Homo sapiens: one gene and its partner. The protein of the gene in region 1 purifies or fractionates together with the protein of each later gene. This does not show direct contact. Each region holds a gene or a part of one and is shown on either strand. Other genes may lie near its edges. The genes, in order: ATP11A and TMEM132E.

Region 1 (4,498 bases):
GACCAGCAACAATGGCAGACCGACAACATGTCTCACCCTAAGAGGCTTGGGGGCGGGGAGAAGTTCTGTTCGTAGAGCCTAGAGGAGTTGTGCAATGGAAAGGGCACCCAGGAAGAATCGTAGCCACAGAGTGAAACCAACACTGGTGGGTGTGGGGCCAGGCCAGGAAGGAGAGGGGAAGAGGCCCCTGCCTCCCTCCTACCCGGTCTGCAGCAGGTTGTCCCTGTGGGTGAAGATCCACTGAGGGGGACCGCCAGCTTCCTGAGCACAGGGCAGGCCAGAGCAGGACAGGCTGGGATGGAAAATGAAGAATCAGTGCTTTAGCCGACAACAAATGGGAGCCGTTTACTGTTTAGTCACTATGATTAGTGTTCACTAGTACTCATTTCTCTTCGTCTAAAAAGTGGCCAACACCATCTCTTTTCCACAAGCACTCGGGAGAACATTCATATTCAATTGCCTTCCTAAGACCCAGACGGGGCAGCGCTCTCCACAGGCCACCAAAAGGTGTTGCCTGTTTGGTTTCATCAGTGATTATCTGTGGCAGCAAGACAGGAAGTTGGAAATCAAGTACCTCAATTAAGTCAAGGCTGACCGTGGAATTAGAGAACAAGTGTTTGTTACCCCGGCCAGGTCACCCTAGGGAAAACAGGCATTCTCCGGGATTGAAATGGTGGTGTTTGTGTGGTAAATAGTTCTCAGTCCAGTTCAAAGCCAGCAGCATTAAGGACACGCCACCGCCACCGGGAGCTGGAGACCAGGCGAAGCTGAGCTCCTCTGTGGTTCACCAACCCCTCAGGCCGCCTAAGTGTCTTCTGCTGTCGCAGCTTTGGGGACAGAGGGGTTTCGGAAACAGGGGCCTCTTGTCTGCACCCTCCCCTCCCACTGACAGGCTGGCAGCCCAGGGCAGCCACCTGAGGAGCGTCCCTGTGTCTCTCCATCTGCAGAGCAGGAAAAGCCTGCGGGTCGGTGGCGCCACGCTGGGGCGAGACCCAGCTTCGGCTCAGGAGATCTCCCACCCAGCCGGACTCCCGCTCTCTGCCCGCGGCCCCCTCCCACACTCCCACCTCGCCCCGCGATCTCACTGCCCCATCGAGGCTTCCGGGCGGAGGAGAAAAGTTTTCCGGCAGGAACCCGGGAAGGAAGCCCTGGGACCCTGGCTGAAACTCCGGGTTTCCCCAGTGCCGAGTCCCTTCCCCGCCGCGCCCAGCGCCTGCGCCCCGGGAGGCGGAAGCAACAGGGGGGTTCCTCCCCGCGGCCTCTGACCTCTGCCCTCTGCCCTCTGCCCCCAGGGTCTGGGGCCCGGGCGGAGGCGCGAGGGGGCAGGGCCGGCGCGCGGGTGCGAGCGCGGGTGTGGGCGCGGGGCCGGCGGGGGCTGCGGCCGCGGGGCGCATGCTCACTTGCGCCGGTGACGTGCGCGCCCGGAGCAGGGGCAGGAGCCAGCGGGGCCCGGAGGCTCCAGAGGGCGGCGGGCAGGGGAGGAGGAGACTCGGGAGGAGCAGAGCGCAGGCTCCGCCGCGGCCGGGGTGCTCCAGCCGAGCCCAACCGAGCGGGCGGACCGACGGGGAGAGAGAAGGCGCCAGAGCGCGCGCGCGCGGCCCCGAGCAGCAGCCTTGCCGCCAGTGGAGCAGCTGCCGACGCGCGGGGCCGCGGACCCAGCATTCGCCGGCCGGGCCGGGCATGAGCGCGGAGGGGCCGCGGCCGCCCCCTGCACCGCCCGGCGCGCCGAGGCCGTGACCGGAGCGGGGGGCGCGGCCGCACTAGTACCCCGGAGCCCATGGGCGCGCCGAGCCGGGCGCGGGGGCGCTGAACGGCGGAGCGGGAGCGGCCGGAGGAGCCATGGACTGCAGCCTCGTGCGGACGCTCGTGCACAGATACGTGAGTGCTCCCGGCGCGGGCTGGGGGACCCGGGGACCAGACAGACGCGGGCCGGCCCCGCAGCCCGGACCCTGTGGCCGGTCCAGCCCCGGGGTCCCGGGAGGTCTCCGATGTCTGGGACTCGGACCGCCCCCGGGGACGAGCGGGATGCTGGGGAGGGGCCTCGGAGTTGACACCCTGGGGCTTCCGACGGGGTCTAGGTGGGCACAGCGCGGGGCCCCAGCCCCGGGCGGCCACCTGCTCCCTGGCCGCGGCCGCCTGGCGCCCCCTTCCCGCCCGCAGCGCCCTGGGGGTCCCTCGGAGAGGCTGGCTGGGGTTCGAGCTGTCCCGGCGGACCGGGCGCCCGGAGGGAGCCAACTTCGACCCCGCCGGGGCCCGGGTCTGGGGAGGAACCTTCAGATGCGGCTTCCGCGCAGCCGTGTCTGTAAGATTAAGGGATTGGGAGGAAGCGTTACACTTCTGCAGAAAAAGGTAGCAATTGTGTTTGTTCTTTAACACCCCTGGGGGATTCAGAAGCGGAGTTTGGAATCTTTTTATTTTTTACCTTAAAGTAACCAATTAGATCAGAAGTCCGGGGTCTTCTTGGGTTCCTCTGGAATTTGCCCCTTCAGTGATAAGCAAGTGAAGAGCTCAGGAGGGAAGACTCGGAAGGGGAAAAGTTGATTTTGTTTTACACCAGAGGAGGGGAAACCGGAATCCCTGGCGTTAGGTGTAAAAAGGGGTGTGTGGCCGGGCGCGGTGGCTCACGCCTGTAATCCCAGCACTTTTGGAGGCCGAGGCGGGCGGATCACGAGGTCAGGAGTTTGAGACCAGCCGGACCGACATGGTGAAACCCCGTCTCTGCTAAAAAATACGAAAATTAGCCGGGCGTGGTGGTAGGCGCCTGGGATCCCAGCTACTCAGGAGGCTGAGGCAGGAGAATCGCTTGAACCCGGGAGGCGGTGGTTGCAATGAGCCGAGATCGAGCCACTGCACTCCAACCTGGGTGACAGAGCGAGACTCTGTATCAAAAAAAAAAAAAAAAAAGGGTGTGTGTGTGTGTGTGTGTGTGTAGGAGAGGAAGAAAACTGTCCCAAGCACAGCGTTTCCTGCCACTGTCTTGCACAAGAGGCTTCATTGTTCCATAGAGGCTGGCGGTCACTGGTCAATCACAGGTTCGAGAAGTCGCATGCACCGGGTTTGATACTAGAGAGGGCAGTATTATGGGAACTTTGTTCTTTCCCGGCATAGGAATTACCTCAGGCAGCCTTTCATATTTATGAGCCTTCTTTAAATAGGAGACCTTGGCCAAAGATAGATAGGTTTCTTTTCAGTGGGGGATGCCAGATCAATGCTTTCCCCCGGATTTATTTATTAACCAAAAACCTCGGAGAGTCAAGGAGACTTGAGTGCACCTTACATCGTTTCCTGATCTCGGGGAAGCCTTAGGAAGGTCAGCCTGACTTACTTAAGTGGAGAGAACTCACCCCTGGTGATTCTGATGATTCCGATGCTAGATCTTGAAAGGCTTGGCTCCAGGAGCCTTGTGTTACTCCCTCACTGGTGCTCGAGCCCCCAGTTCAAATCCTAATGTGAGTGGTAAACCTGTGTTTCACTGTGGTAACGTTATAGAAGACCCAATCACAGTGACTATAGGTAACCTGCAGTGTAAGAGAAATGCTTTATTGGGCGGAAGCTTCTGTTCTCAGTTGTGTCGCTCAGAAGTGTGGGTCCCTAGACACCTTATTTTCCTGCTTTGTTTCCTTCGAGCGAAATGGAAGAGGGAAGGGACTAACACTCACTTTGCCCGCGGTGTTCCCAGTTCATTCCGTTCCCTTCTAACACTCAGTGTTAAAAAGGAGGGTCACGTTGTGGGGCTAATGTGCAGCCTCTTTCCATAGAAATGAGAGATGGATGGGCCAGCCCGGCTCACCCTTTGGAGAATCCCCCCTTCCCAGCCGGTTTCTGACCCCTTCATCTTGGGAGGGGGACAGACAGACGTCCAATTTTGATGCTTGACTCCCTTTCTCCAGGCCTTCAGCTGTTTTCTGTTATATAGATCTATATAAGTGTTTGCGTAGCTTGCATTTTTAATTCCCCTTTGCTGTATTATTACGCTTATGGCATCACATTTTCTTTTAATCTAAGCGGTAAATATTCTTTAGTGAACTTTTCCAGCATATACATTATTGGATAACGTCTCGGGAATACGAGTTGTGGGATAATATTATTTCTGTTTTTCTCATTCCACCTGTGTTTTTTGCAGTGTATTCATCTGGCTACCTCACCCATATTTACACACAGAGCCATTCATCTCTATCATTTTAAGTTCATGTCTATGGTATTAAACTAATTTGACTTTTTCCAGAAACAGTCATGATCTGTTTTCTTGTAATTGCGTTATCGTCCACTATGTAGGACTAAATTATATTTCCTTTTGCTACAGAAAAAAGAGTCTGGGATTGAATACTCATATTTCCTCATGGTTTCCTTATGTGACTTACTTTATTAAAAAGGATAGATAAATAGACCCTGTTCCTTCTTGGTGTTCACATAGTCAGAATTCCTGGGACAAAGAAAGCTTTCCAGCTCCTTCTGATGTGTGAGGGTGGCTAAAAGATAAAGAAGTCCTTGGAAAACA
Region 2 (4,447 bases), on another chromosome or scaffold:
CCGAGAGCCCCTCTTTTTCTTATTCTCTCAACCTTGAGAATGCGCTTTGGTCAGGGTGAAAGAGGCCGCTGGTTAGAGACCTTGGGCACACTCCTGGCGAGCTTGAGCAGGCTCTTAGGGACTGGGCAGATCTGGGCAAGAGCTGAGCCCGGCACACCGAGGGCGCTCCACCAATGCGGAGAGCCCACTGCCCCCTCCATCTAAGCGCCCTCCATTCTGCCTGAGGCTCACCCCTCAGCGTGGAGCATCGAAACACCCCCGCCCCCCAACCCCGCCACGCCTTGCTGGTTAAGAAAATGTATCCCAGGTCGGCTGGTTTCACGTTAGGAGGGAGCAGAGGGCCCCGCTTCTCCACTCTCCTTTCGGAGCTCTCTCCCTCCCACCTCGGTCTGCTCCCCTCGCCTCCTGGAGCGTCTCCAGCTTGCGGAAGGCCCGCTGCAGCCTCCTTCCCTCTGGTCTGATTTCCCATTCTTGGGGGCTGTTCAAAAACCCGCTGCCCCCCACCCGTATGCCCGCTGTCCCACCGCCAAAGCGCGCCAACCTCAATCCCTCCTTCTCCCACCCCCTTTACCGCGGAGCCCGGGGCGAGCCTGGGGAGCAGACGCAACAGATTGCAGAATGCGAGAGCGCGGAGCCCGCTCCCTCCGCGCGCGGCCCGCGGCCCACCGCCCCGGCCTGTGCGGGTGCCCAGACCCCCGCCCTCCGGGCTCGCCTAAGCCGGCCATTTAGATGCAGCTCACAGGACCGCGGGCGTGCGAGCCGCGGCGGCTCCCCGGCCCGGAGTCAGTCCACTTCCCTTCCCGAGGACCGCCGCAGGAAGCGAGGCGACGGGCGGCGCGGCCCCGCACCGGCCTGCGCGCCCGGGGCGAGGAAAGACGCGATCCCGGCGGATCCCAACAGCCCCCAGCCCGGCCGGCTGCAGGGAGAGACGGGGGCGGGGGGCGGCCTGGACGCGATCCGGAGGATCCCTCGGATCCCTCTAGATTTCCGTGGGCGGACACGACCCCAGACCTTCGGGTTCGAACCCTTCTTTATAACCAGGAGAGGACTGGAGCGACACCCTCCCCCCACCCTTTTCTGGCGCCGGGCTCGGTCCCCTCAGCTGAGCTCGCCGGAGGGCTCGGGGGCTGGCGGTAACTCGAGCTGCAGCCAGAGACGCCAAACCCGGAGTGGCGGCTGCGAGTCCAGGGGGTGTGGGTGCTCCTCTCCCCAGTCTTCCCCGTACCCCCTCCAGTGGCGCCTGCCGCATCCTCACCCCCAGTCCGCGCCGCGACACTTACCGTGGGCGAGTAGCGCTGAGAGGCAGAGCAGGGCGGCGCCGCCGCGGCCCGACATCCCCGGGGCCATGGCCGAGGCGGGGGCGGGAGGGGTCCGAGAGAGCAACAGTCGACGACGACTTGGCCCCAGGCTGGGCTTGGTCACATCCAACTCAGGGCTGCCGTGGCGCCCGGCTGTCTCAGATGCAGCTCCGGGACCAGAGAGTGCAATTCGGGGACACTTTGCGGGGAGGGGGCGTCCCAGGCGCTGGCGGCTACACCCTCGGAGCCGGTGGGGGCGCAGCTCCGGGCGGGAGGAGCCTCCACCTCCCCCAGCTGGTGCCCCCTGCAGGATCTGCGAGGCGCGGGGGGAGCTGCACGTGCAGTCCGGAGCCCGGTGGCCGCGGGCGTCCCGGGGGCTACCTAGAGCCCAGTGCTGAATCTCCCGGCCTCACGGCCCAGCTCGAATCCGAACTCACTCGAGGGTGCCGACTTCCAACGCAATCCCCAGTTTCCTCGGTTTCGGTAGTAACCGCACATGGATAGCGCCGCTTTCTTCCTCCAAGCCCCTGCAGCAGCCCAGCATAAAAATCCCAGGTCAGGTGCAAATGAATGCTGTCTTTCTCAAAGAAAGAGAAAATCCAGACAACTTTAATCCATCTGGAGAAGGAAAAGTTTCCGTGCGGTGCTGAAACTGGCGACGCCGGTCGCCACCACCCTAGGCGACGCCCAGACCGGATGCCCGAGGCGGGCGGCCAGATGTTTGTCCCCTCGCAAGGCTCGCTCCTCCGCTCCAGCGCGCTTTCTCCAGTCTGGATCAGGGCCCAGGCTCCACACAGGCCGGCTCAGCGCCTCCTGCCCAGGCAGCCGCTCGGCGGCTGGGGCAAGGGTGGCGCGGCCAGAACGGGCTGCCCCATGTAGATGGGGCTTGGAGAAGCGAGGGAGCGAGAAAGCCGGCTAATGCGCCCTGCCCCGAGCCCTTCCTGCCCAGGACGTCGACTCCAGCTTGATGACCATAAACGCTGTAAGATGCAGAGGGGCTCCTGCAGCTCACGGCAGCTCCGGGCCACCCCGCTAAGGTCTCGCTGTCTCGGCAGAGAGGCGCGCTGCCCCGCCTCGCTCCTCGCCTTCCCTGGGGGAACCTGCACAAACCTTGAACTTTTCTGGGGTTCAGAGTCTCCGACGCCTCCTCCCCGCCGCCCCCACCCTGTCCCCGGACGCCCGTTCGCCCGCTGTCTCGATGCTGCCGGGCATCGGCTCCCGCTCCCTCCGAGTCAGTTTGGGCGAGCGGATCGCCGCGCCAGTCCGGGCTGCGGGCGGTGAGACGCGGGCGCGGCGCCAGGGGCCAGGGCAGCCGGCACCTGCGCAGCTTGCGGCCAGGGAAGCGGCAGCTGGTGCCTACGGGGCCGAGAGGAGAGGAGGTGCTGGCAGGGGAGCCGGCTCCCCATGGACGTGTGTGGGGGAAGAAGAAGAATCGAGGAGCAAAAAGGAAGAGGAGGTGGGGGAAGCCACAGTTGCACGAAGCAGCCGCCGCCGCCGTCGCCGCCTCCTCGGCGCTCGCGCCGGCTGCTCCGCCGTAAATGACTCGAGAGAGACACACACACTCGCGCTCGCCCGCCCTCCTCCTCCGTCCGGGATTCAGCGCCCACCCGGGCAGAAGCGGGCGCCGAGCTTGGCGCGCTCACTCCCACCCCTCCCAGATTCCCCGTGGTCACGTGGCCCCCGAGCGCGCGGCCCACAGCTCGCGCGCCACGGAGACTCCCCGACTCCTAGCTCCCCCTCCTCTGTCCACGTGTCCATTCCGCATTCCTAGCCTGGCGGCGCGCGCGGCTCCTTAATGAGACTCGGGCCAAGGGCCGACCTCGCGATTCCGCTCGCCCCTATTTTATGTTTGATTTTTCCTTCCCAACGCCGGCTAGCGCTGGGACCCGAATGGGGCCGGCCAGCTGCGGCGGGAGGAGCCTCCACCTCCCTCAGCTGCGTTTCTCCAGGGTAGACGCCACCGCAGTCACTGATGTCCCTTTTCAAAGGATGCACGCTCCCCACCGGGCGCCGGAGGTGTTTTGCAGCCGCTCTTCCAGAGGCGCGGGTAGGGGGCACCCTACCCCCACCCCCAGAGTTCGCTGGGCACTGGCTGGGAATCAGCCTCGCTGCTGTGCCCAGCTCCTCTCGGGCCGCGGGGGCTCTGGGGCTCAGCTTCGTGCGGGATGGGTCCGGGGCGCAGCTGTGGGAAACCTATTTATTCTGTTGCTGGGGAAGGAAGACGGAGAAGAGGAGGGGACAGTGCTTTCCTACAGGTTGTTTAGCAAGCCTTTAAAGAGGCATGAGGTGGGGGTGGGGAACTGCCCCTCTTGCATACTCACCCAGGCACCTGCTGACTAGCGGGAGGGGTGGCTGGAGTGATATCTGTTCCCACCATCAGGCCCTTTCCATTAGAGTGCAACCTAGATCAGACCCGGCAAGTCAACCTTCACACCTCATCTGTCAACCAGGCATCGGATCCATGGCAATGATTTTATAGCTTCGTTGGGTATCAACTCCAATCCCCAGAGGGTGAATTTCAATCCTACCCTGCTCTGGAGGGACAGGGTCTTCAATCCCATGGACATATCCCTACTGGGGAGGATATGGATCTTGAGGGTCACCCTTCCATACCTCTGCACTCAACTGGAGTGAGAGTGTGGGGCCAGGTCAGAGCAAAGCCAGCTGGGGCACTCAAACCGTGCCCTCCATCTGCCTGACTCCATGCTAGCCCTCTTGACCCTGAGAGTTTCCTTTCATCTAGGACGGTGACATTTTGTTTTTGGAAAATGTGCTTGCATTTTTCATGGAAGGCTTCCTCCTCCCTGGCTGCTGGCTGTTGCTGCCTCGCTTGGTACTGGGGCCTGTAGAGGGCTGCTCTGGCCCTTCCCCCACCCCTACATCTGTCTGGAGCTGGGGGGAGGTGCAGCCTGAGGAGAGCTGGCCAGCTCTTGGAGGCCCTGGGGATAGAAGGTGCTGGAGTCGTCAAAGAAGATTATTCTCATTAGGCCCCTAATGCCTGATGGCAATTAATGTCACCCAAGGGCTTATTCACCAACCCCCTGAGAAGCAAGCTAGCAATCAGGCTCTGTGTGGGGGAGAAAGGGGGAAAGATCCACCTCCTGAGGCAGAGGAGGGCTTCAGGAAGAGGAGGAAGGAAGCAGGGAGGG

What was found.
Region 2: the proteins of ATP11A (region 1) and TMEM132E fractionate together in Homo sapiens (co-fractionation; one large-scale study listed by BioGRID). This does not show direct contact.

What each region holds. Positions count from the first base shown.
Region 1 is NC_000013.11:112,688,578-112,693,075, forward strand, and holds the start of ATP11A (phospholipid-transporting ATPase IH), read left to right. Parts: upstream 1-1,460; 5' UTR 1,461-1,839; coding exon 1,840-1,878; intron 1,879-4,498. UniProt on the Homo sapiens protein: Catalytic component of a P4-ATPase flippase complex which catalyzes the hydrolysis of ATP coupled to the transport of aminophospholipids, phosphatidylserines (PS) and phosphatidylethanolamines (PE), from the outer to the inner leaflet of the plasma membrane.
Region 2 is NC_000017.11:34,577,977-34,582,423, reverse strand, and holds the start of TMEM132E (transmembrane protein 132E precursor), read right to left. Parts: upstream 2,843-4,447; 5' UTR 1,348-2,842; coding exon 1,281-1,347; intron 1-1,280. UniProt on the Homo sapiens protein: Required for normal inner ear hair cell function and hearing.